Regions from separate parts of the Homo sapiens genome. Here region 2 is linked to region 1. The links come from fine-mapping of genetic effects on gene expression. A gene starts in region 1. The other region holds a variant in brackets. All regions are shown on one strand. Distances are between the middles of the regions. Region 1 holds the start of TMEM47 (transmembrane protein 47). Region 2 has its middle 380 kb from the start of MAGEB16.

Region 1 (5,387 bases):
TTCACAGCAGTTTTAATTCTAATTAAGACAAACATTTTTAATTAAGCCTTAAAGATCCTGGTGAAGGGCCTTCAGTAAAAGTGTCCTTGGTGGTTCCTCCCAAGGTAATTTATTTTGAAAGACAAAGATGTGGATCTCTCAAAATCTTCAGAGAAGACATTTCCCTCCCTGTTTTCTGCTACTCCACACAGCAAACAGACGAAAAAAGCTGCTTGCCCTTTGGAACAGACAAGAAAAGCACTGCTGGTTTTGATTCGGGCATTCCCCTTCCTTTCAAAACACTGGCGGACAGAAGCTTCAAATTCACATAACATAAGAAAGTACATTTTGTAAAGTGGGGACACAGAGCAATTTTCCATATCTTGTTTCCTTTCCTCCACCCCCGCCCTGTGTCCCACCATCACCGTGGAGAGCAAAAAATGAACTGCTATTATATATACACAAAGTCAAGAACTTGTTCCAGAAAACCTCTAACAAAATCATCTCTACTTTTTACCCATTTGCTTATGAATTCTACTTTATCTGGGCTGAAAACTATTTTTTTAAGGCAAGATAAGATGAAAGCTGATTTTCAGAAATCCAAATAGAAATATACGCTGGGCTATGACTTTCAGCAAGGGGGTAGAATAAACAGGGAAAAATCCCAAACTGGGCCTGCCTTTGATTTTTACTTTGCAGAGTGCTATTACCGCTATATTTGCATTAGGCTTGCGTCTCCATATTTCCTTGACTAGAGAGGAAAAAAGCTGAGATAAATGGGTATGGAGGCAATTAAGAAAAGGTTAGCAAACACTGTATGTTGCTCTGCAAACTCGAGCTGGCTTCTCCCCATTCCCTACATTCCTGGCCAAGAAAAAAGGGTACTGGCTTGAAAAGCAAATGTGAGTTGAAACTGGTTTCTCTAACCTATCTGAAAAGTCTTTATGCAATCAGGGGTCTATTATTTCAGGAGACAGAGAGAAAGGGGCAAAACATTCACGTTGCCAAGGAGTCGTGCAGTAGCTGTCATTCCTACATAAATTTTATTATTGAAGAGGGGAAAGGAGATATTTTCGCCAAAGTTTATTTGGATCCCCTGGTTACCGAAGAAAGAAATTCTGCCGATTTATTTTATCTTTAGTTGTAAACTGCCAACCCTGAAAGAATTGAAGGACCTAAATGTTGACCTCCTGCTGCCAACCAGTTCCCTCCACAGTGAATTAACCAACAAAGAGGAAACCCTTCAATGGGAATTTTGAGGTAGTATCAAAGAAAAAGCCTTTTTTAAACACAAAATTAAATTTACAGAAGAAACTTGGTCAAATTTTCCTGTGTTATAACAGGAAACCAAAGACAAAAGAAAATCAGATTTTTGTGGCTTTTTGTGCTATTTCAACTTTGTTACAACTTGAAACGTTTCCAGGAAAGCTTTATAAATAGTCCCAGAGAAGACATGAAACTGGAAGGAATGTAATGAGTTTCTCAGGTGTCTATGTGTGTGTGTGTGAGTCTGTGTATGTGTGTGTGAGAGAGAGAGAGAGAAAGAGAGAGAAAGAAAGAAAATCGCCGGCAGGTCCTCTCTCTTTATTTCCCTTTCTCTTCGCTGACACCAGCAGTTGAAGAATCAAAATTAGAAAGGAAGGGGTTTGTAGCGAGAAATCATAAGTTGACTGATTTTTGCTAAGGGCATAACTGGGGCGCCGGGGAAGGCAACTGGAGGGTCAGGGAGGGCGGAAAGCAGTAAAGCCCCCTGGGACTGGTAGCCTCAGTAGCTACCTTATTCTCCACTCCCCACCCCCATCTTATCCATTTGCAGCTTTCAGCGCTGGCGGAATAAAGCACAACTTTCTAGGCATCTGTGAGTAGCTCATGGAGAAAAGAAAGGTCTGGAGGAGAGAAGAGTTACTTAGAGTGGCAGAGAAAGAAAGGCAACTCACAATCAACGGCGGCGTCACCAAAAAAGGAAAGGAAAACAAGCCTGTCCCTCTCTCAACTCTTCATATCCATCAAAAACGTAAGGAAATAAAATCCAAACCGAAATACATTGGTGAAAACGCAGATAAGGTGGAGTGGAACCGGCAGAAATGTGAACACTAGGCAAATTCGTCCTCGAGAGAGGAAGGAAAAAGAGTGGGGAAGACCGAACAGCGAACCCCCGCAGCATCTCGGTGGAGTTGGGGCGTTTTTGCCTGCTTCTTTTTTAACGGGGGTGTGGAAGGCGTCGCATTTTTTTACACAGCCACATGGCTCTCGCCTCAAATGATAACAAATACCCAAAATAGCGTACGTGTTACTCCAGAACAGGAGGAATGGCCACGGGGAAGGGAGAGGGCGTGGGCTGTCGCTTTAGGTTTGGCGACCAGGGATGGGGAGGGAAGAGGGGTGGATGCCAGGGAGGTGGCGGGAGCCCCAGGATCCGAGAAGGGCCTGGACGGGGTGGGACGGGCCAGGGCAGAGGATGCGGGGACGTGGGGACAGGCGGTGACTGTCCTGGCAGTGGGGCGCGGGGCAGTCCGGGGCGGGAGGCAGGGGTCGCGGCGCGCCAGGCCCTCACCGCTGCTGAGCGTGGACTCGCAGTGCCAGATGTCCAAGCTGGCGGGTTTCCGGCAGGACTCCCACAACGACAGGTAGTACTGGTGGTCAGCTGTGACCCAGGCCGGGCTCAGCACCGCCCCCAGGTCCAGACACAGCGCCAGGAAGATGCACACCAGCCCGACCAGCTTCAAGGGGGTCAGCACCGACACGCGCACCTCCTCCATGCCGCTGCCCGCCGAAGCCATTCCTGGGCGCCGCTGTCGTCCGCCCCGCCGCAGGCGAGGACGCCAGGCGGGTCCGGAGAGCCGGGAGCCGGACCTCCCGAAGGGAGAAGCCGCCGAGCTGCCACGCGCGGGGACTCGCTCCCTCGGGGCTCTGCGCGCCCCCTGCCGCGCGGCCAAGGTGGGTCTGCGGAGGCGGCCGGCCGGGTGTGGGTCGTCGGCAGCCGCAGCGACGTCGATTCCACCCCGGACCTTCGCCGCCGGCCCCGCGCCGCGCTCTGCCAGCGCCCGCGCCCGCTCCTCCCGGCTCGGCCGGGCTCGCTCCGCCCCGGCCCCTCCCCGGGCTGCGGGAGGCGGTGCCGTACGGGGAGGGGCGGAGGGCCAGCACTTGGTGGCTTCGGCTCCAGTTCCCAGTGCCGGAGGCTCGCGCCTGTCCCGCCCCTACCCCGCCTCTGGCCCGCGGGCGGAGCCCAGTGCCAGCCCGCGCCCCCGATTCGCAGCGCGCGGCAGTTCCTTGAAGCAGCCCCGCGCCCAGCCCGGCCCTCGCCGGGCCCCCAGCCTCGCTGGCTCCAGGTCGCCGGGCTCTCCCCTTTCGCCCAGTCACGTGGGTTTCCTTTTCTTAGGGAGCAGGAGTGGGCGGTTTTCTAGAAGGCGCCAGAGGTGGATTCCTAGGTTTCCTAAGCTGTGCCTCTTGGAGCAAGGACAGGTCCTCTGTCTCTCAGTGATGTAACACGCCCCTCCCCGGACAATTTCACATCCTGAGAGATTTGCGGGACGGAGGAGAAAAGTGACTAAATGCATTTTGCCCTCTTTTCAAAACCAGACGGGCCCAGGAGTCCCCCGGTTTTCCCTGTTTTCTCACTTCTCCGCTAGCCTGCTGCCGCTTCTGTTCTCTGGGCTCACCTGCTTTTGCGCCCCCCTATGAAGGGCATTTGCTCTGAAAACGCAGGCGCTAAAAAGGAAATGAGAGCTCCTGCGAAATATGAAGTAAGTCTTATTTCCATCTCCACTGCTCTGCCCTTTGGGTGTTGGCTAAAACCTTTATTAATTCCGCTTTGCATTATGCCAAGCTGGATCTAATTCCCCTCCTGGGTATTAGGATGTCCTTGTCCTTAGCAAGATCTAGCCCAGGACCTGCAATAGGAAAAGTGATGTGTATATTTCCTGAATGGTAAACTAAGCAGTCTACAAATATTTGTTGAGCATCTAAGGGCTAAGGATTCAACACAATAGGACATCGTCCTGTTCTTAAGTAGATGCACCATATTTTCTCCCTTATGTGAGGACTAAACACCTCTTGAAATTGAAATTGAAATTTTGTAATTGCCTGGTTCAGCATGTGATTGGTGGGTTATCTGTCTCTTGTAGCTCTTTGACTCATCTCCATCTTTTCTATAAAATAAATAATTTATTGAATACATTAATGAGGAGGGGCGATGTTTCTAGATCTTTAGTCATCCCAAAAACTTGGTGAGACTCCCAAAACAGTGGTTAAGAGCTGAAGAATGCAAGAAACATGTTCTCTCTTCTATGAAACACAATCCTCAATGTTGCAAGATTTCATACTTTTGGTTGATAAAAATTATTTTTCCCCAACCACATCTTTCCATAGGTTGAACACATGTTGACTGCAGCAACATTTTGGGCTAAGAAACAATCGAGTTAGTGTCAAATGAGAACAAACCTAATGTAAAATAAACGCCCGGGCTTTTCTTATATTTACAATTTCGGGAACTTTTCTCCCACCTCTCAATCATTACCGTGCTAATTATTGCAGGACCCTTAACAAAGAATGCCTAGAGCATCCAGAGCTCACTAACCTCCAAATCCCAAAGGGCTTCTTGGCTTCTCAACTAGAAAGAAGCCTAAGTGCATATTCTCCTTAAAAAATTAGGGAACACTGAAAAATTTACAAACCGGGACAATTAAGAGGTGACCAGGATTGTGTGACTGTTCTTTTATCTAGATTTATAATGTGTATTCAAAAGTAATAAGAAAATGTCTTGAGTGTGCTCTCAAAGATATAAAGAAATCTTTATTTTGCCTCCAACTTCTATCATCTTCTCTTTAATAAGTTTATTTTCCAATTAGCCAATAGTTTTCTTTATTCTCTTCAATGCAGGCTTTCTTTCCCCTCTACCCCTACCCCAACCCCCACCTCCACCCACATTTTTGCTTAATTTTTTTCTGGCTTGTTCTCAACTGCTTGCTTGAGTTACTCCATCCTTCTTTATACTATCTAAAAAAATTGTCTCTATACTGTCTCCAAAACTAGAAAAGTAAACAATTTTTAACAAAAAGCCAAATTTTCCTTAAAAAACTCTATTCCTCTATTAATAATTTATAGAATTTTGCACAACATAGGCCCATCAACCATCCCTAATCCTCAATTTCAAAATACAACAAACTCTCAAAAGTATTTTTTTTCTTTTCATATATTTGTAGCAAACTCAGGGGCACAGGGACACTTCCTCTCCAACTGCTGAAGGTTCACTGGAAATGAACTGAGAAAAGGCAGATTAATTGGAGAAAAAAAATGCATGTAAAACTTATTTTATGTGCACAGGGAAAAAAATCACAGGAGTGTGATTACCCAATAACACAATGAGGTCCAGATGCTTATATACCCTTCTTCACTGAAAGAGAGATGAG
Region 2 (5,387 bases), 770 kb after region 1:
AAAGTGGGGGAACAGTGGTTACTGGCTTCCATATTACAACGAAGCAAATGGAGTCTGAGATGGTTATTAAAAGACGCATCAAAAACCCAAACTGAAGTCTGACTCCAGAACTCACCTTGCAAAGTGTCATCATTCAATTGCTCCAATTAAAGTCAAATTTATCTGATTTTAAGGAAAAAGCATATTACTGAAATATTTGTATATGTGTAGCCAGTAATGGTGACATACCAATAGCACTTGTGGACAAATGTTAAGTGCCTGGTTGCCCAGGATGATTCTAACCTCTTGATGGAGTGCAGGATTACTGCATTTTTAGTCCAACATCCAACATGGTTCATTGCTATCAAGATTTCGACACCACTATCCACCTTACTTTTTATGCCAGAGTATGGAGTTTTCCCCTCATTTAGGGCCTTATTCTTGCAGAGACTCTACCTTGCTTTCAGAAATGTGGATAGTCTTTGTCATTTATGTGCCTCCAACAAATTATGAGGTTTAACGAACTATTAAGAGCTTTTTATATGCATGCTTATTTATAGTAGTACATGTCTCTAAATGGTTTGCTGTACTATAACATATTCATATACATTATGAGTAATTCACATGAAGTTATGATCTGATACCCCAAAACATAAAATATTAAACATTTATGTGTACCAAATAAAATGCCACTCAACATATCTTATGAAATCTCATTCTAAACCTCTAACCCTTACACTGTTCTAACAGTTGTCATAGTTTAAGACATAATTGCTTTAGTTAGTATGATAATGTGTTTCTATGATTATTTGTGACAGACATCATACTCTAGACTTGATTAGCATAGAATAAAAAACAAAACATTGGAGAAGCTCTACTTGAGATGAAGCTCAGCAGTTATAGTACTTTCTCACTGCTGACCTGTGGCTTTTAAAAATGGGATTCTGGTTTCTTTCTTTCACGTTTATTAATTTGGGATAATAATGAATGGTTTTAGTGAAGTTTGTGAGTTGACAGCTATTTTATCTAAGATCCATGAAGAAAAGTAAGAATATTTACTTTATTATTCTTTTTATATTAAAAGTTGTGCATGCAATCCAGATTGTTAATTAATATATAAAATGGTGTTTAACATTATTAGTCATCAGGATTGCAAGTTCAAACCTTAGTAGGAGATTACTGTACCACCAACAGGATAGTTAAAATTAAAAGAACTGCCAATGTCAAGTGTTGGCAAGGATTTAGAGTGACTGGAACTCTTGCACGTTGTTGGCTAGGGGTAAATTGGTAAAAAACACTTTGGAAAACTGTTTGCTGGCAACTAGTATAGCTAAAAAACACTCTAGGATTCAGTAATTCCACACTTGGCTATATATACAAGAGAAATGCATACACATATGCACCAAAATACATGGAAAAAAACCTCATAATGTGAATGGATAAATATATGTTATGTATTCATACAATGGGATATAACTCAGCAATAATAGTTTTATGATTTCTGAAAATACATGGATGAATTTCACATAAATAAAATTGAGCAAAAGAAGGCCAAGCACAAAAGAGGACAAACTATAATTCCATTCATATCGAGTTCAAAAACAAACAAAACTTTTGGAGTATATAAACTAGGAGTGGGCACAGGAGAGCTTTCCTGGGTGCTGGATATGTATCTTGATTTTGGTGCTGATTTCATAGATGTAAACATTTATCAAGCTTTCTTAAGATTCATTTACTTACTAAAATATATACACTTAAAATAATTGAAATAAGAATCTGTATAACCAACATTGTCAAAATGCCCCGTTAAAGCAACTTCCGCACTGGCTGATTCAAAGTGTTTGACTTTAGTCCCAGAGAATGAAAGCTTTTCTGAGTCACCAGATCATGTTCCTGTAGGTTCTACTTGGATAATACATTTTAAATGCTGTGTTCAGGAGTAACTGATGCTTAAATATAGATTTAGTGTCATCACTTTTTATTATAAAATGCTAAATGGAAGTAGAAACATCTCATGACCCACATTTTCAGTTTAATAGTCCTAAACCATCATTTTCTATCCTAAACATATAAGTCAATAACTTAAAAACAATTAACAGTCTATATATATATATATCTTGTATATATTATATATCATCATAACTTACACAACTCCTCAAAAGCAATAATTTAAATAAGTACTAGATTTATGCATTATTGAAAGAACTTTGGTTAAGAAAATATTCCAAATTTTTCATGAGATTTGAGAAAGTAAATGTCATATACATGTCAGTTCATTTTTTCATATACATGTTTTTTTACACATATTCTATCAGTGTTTCAAAATATAATATGCAGACCCAGAAGAAAGGTACAGACCCCATTTTTAAACCATACTCTGGACAGGACTATTTTCTACTAGGAATGGACTACCCTATGAAGGCAAACAAGACAGGAAGGCACTCTGGATCCTGAAGCGATTCTGTCCACCAAAACATCTTCTGAGGTGTTGTATTTTGCTTTTGCTAAAGTTTTGCACAGACCTCTGTGAGTGGTTGTCCCAGATACAAAATCACACAGGAAATTAATTCCTAAGGATGAAGCTGAAGTCACAGGCTTTAGTTATCTTTGGAAACCTCAGAATGCTTTTTCAGCACTGGCTTTCTGATCTTTGAAATGGAGCAAATCCTTGTTCCCTGAAAATGACTTTTGTATTAGAAGACATTCTTGAATATACTTTTTCTTTGGAGGAGTGTCTGTTCCTTACATGAAAACCTTGACATATTTTTGAGTGTGTCAGTGCTCCAATTAAAACATAGTGTCACAAGCCAGGTGCCACTGTCAATATTGCGATGGCTGAAGTAAGGTAAAATATAAAAGAAATTTCATGACAGTAGAAGTGGTAGAGCCAGAAAGTGAATTGAATTCATTTAGAATTAATCTTTTATGGATCAGGGAATTTTTTCAGAGTTTCTTAAAAAGGAGTTAGCATTCAATTAGCAACAAACTCTAATCTGTGTCAGCAATAAGACACTCTTTAGCAATTTATTTCAGTGCAAAAGGTCACTGCAGAGAAAATGCAATTATTGAATATCTAAGAGAGAAATAAATATTGAGGCAGAATTAGGATTTTTTAATAGAATTATGGATATTAGACTTGATTCTAAACTTTATTTAATCAAAGCACTAGATTATTTACTTTGGTGAGTAAGCTTATAATCAGGAACAATGAAATTATTTTTTGAGAACATTA[A/G]AGCTAACATATTTTTGCAAAGTTGTAGCAATGATTTAAGTATAGTTGCTTGGAGCTATTGTACAAAGATAATGATAGACGCTGGATGTGGTTTCCTAAACCCATGTGTGGGACAGGATCACTACCAAACATGAAGCGAGGCCTGGCCTCAAATGCTGGGAAATCTTTGAGAGGCCATTATTCAGAAGTTCATCACTTCAGAGGGTCCTTCACCTTGACTGCATTGGGTTTATTCTCAGACCCCTACACATCAGAATTTCTCTTGGGTAGTCAAGGAGAGCAGCATATAGTAGAAAACTCCCAAAGATGTCTGTGAATCAGGACTTCAATGGAGACAAAGCTACCATTTCAAATTGAATCTCAGCCTAAGTCATACACCACATACAAAAATTAACTCAAAATGGATCACAAATTTAAATAAAGCTTAAAACTATAGAACTGCTAGAAAAAAGTAAAAATAGTTATGATCTAAAGCTAAGTAGTGTTCCTAAACTTGACTAAAAGCACAATTCAGAAAAACAAATAACCTAAATTTCTTTAAAATTAGAAAATTTTCTTCTGTGACACGTTATGTTAAGAGAATGAAAACACAAGCTACAAATGGAAAGAAAACAATTAGAAACCAAACCATATATTTATCAAAGAACTACTACTGTCTACAGAATATTAAAACTCTCAAAACTCAGTAGTAAAAAAATAACAATCAAACAAAATCTAATCTAAGTGATTAGAAATGCTAAAATACATGAAGAGACGTTTTACTAAAGAGGATATATAGAGAGGGTAAATAAGTATAAATAAGTATATAAAAAGATGTTGAACCGCATTAAAAATTATGAAAATTCATTTTAAAACCACAGTGAGTGCCAGGCGTGGTGGCTCATGCCTGTAATGCCAGCACTTTGGGAGGCCGAGGTCGGCAGATCACCTGAGGTCAGGAGTTCAAGACCAGCCTGACAAATATGGAGAAACCCCATCTCTACTAAAAATACAAAGTTAGCCAGGCATGGTGGCGCATGCCTATAATCCCAGCTACTTGGGAGGCTATGGGAGGAGAATTGCTTGAACCCAGGAGGCGGAGGTTGCAGTGAGCCGAGATCGTGCCATTGCACTCCAGCCTGGACAACAAGAGAGAAACTCCATCTAAACAAACAAACAAACAAACAAACAACAACAAAAAAACAAAACAGAGATTCTAATATTCCCCATCAGAATGGCTACAATAAAAAATAGTGAAAATAACAAATGTTGTTAAGGATGTGAAGAAACCAGATCACAGAAATGTTGCTGGTGAGAATGTAAAATGTCACAACCACTCTGGAAAGATTTTGGTGGTTTCTTATTAAAAAAAAAGCAAATACCCTACAATCTAGCATTTACACTCTTGAACATTCATCACCAAGAAATGAAAAGTTCTGTTCAAATACCTGTACATGAAAGTTCATAGTAGCCTTATTTGTAATAGTCAAAAGTGGAAACAACTCAGATGTTATTCAGCAGGTGAATGATTACAGAATATTTGGTATATGTACCATGGAATACTACTTAGCAATAAAAGGAAATAAACCACTGATACACACAGCAGCCTGGATGAATCTTCAGAGACTTATTCTGAGATAAAAACAAGCCAATCCCCAAATGCCACTTACTCTATAATTCCATTTATATAACATTTTTTAAATGACATAATATTAGAAATGGAGAATAGATTAGTGGTTTTCAGGGTTTAAGGAGGGGGTAGAAATTGGAATGTGGTAAGCTTGACTATAAAAAAGCAACATGAAAGATAAATGTGGTGCTAGAACTACTTTTTCTCTTGACTGTATAGATATAAATATTCTGGTTATGATATTCTACTATAGTTTTGCAAGATGTTATCATTGGGGAAATTGGACAAAGAGTACATGGAATCTCACTTTTTAAATTGTACCACTGCATATGAATCTAAAATTACATTAATTTGTTTTAAAATACCTTAAAATAATATTAATACATGTGTTTTTAAGTGTAACAGATATTATGGGCAGAAATATTACAAATGAGTAATACCAAGATTCTCTTAGCTGAAAATACTATAAATCTCTACTAAAAAGTATGTCTCTCGGCCGGGCACGGAGGCTCATGCCTGTAATCCCAGCACTTTGGGAGGCCGAGGTGGGCGGATCACGAGGTCAGG

The links. PIP is the estimated chance that this variant, and not a neighbour inherited with it, causes the effect. A credible set is the group of variants that fine-mapping cannot tell apart.
Region 2: its variant is the best candidate, but not a certain one, in a credible set for the expression of TMEM47 in tibial artery (GTEx, PIP 0.59).

The regions. Positions count from the first base shown.
Region 1 is chrX:34,654,271-34,659,657 of GRCh38, forward strand. It overlaps TMEM47 (transmembrane protein 47), which reads right to left and starts at 3,015. Exons shown (of 3, transcript NM_031442.4): 1 at 2,534-3,015. The coding sequence starts at 2,759.
Region 2 is chrX:35,420,624-35,426,010 of GRCh38, forward strand. No RefSeq gene overlaps it. Among named protein-coding and RNA genes, the nearest start is that of MAGEB16, 380 kb to the right of the region's middle. The variant A/G (reference allele first, on the strand shown) is at 3,212.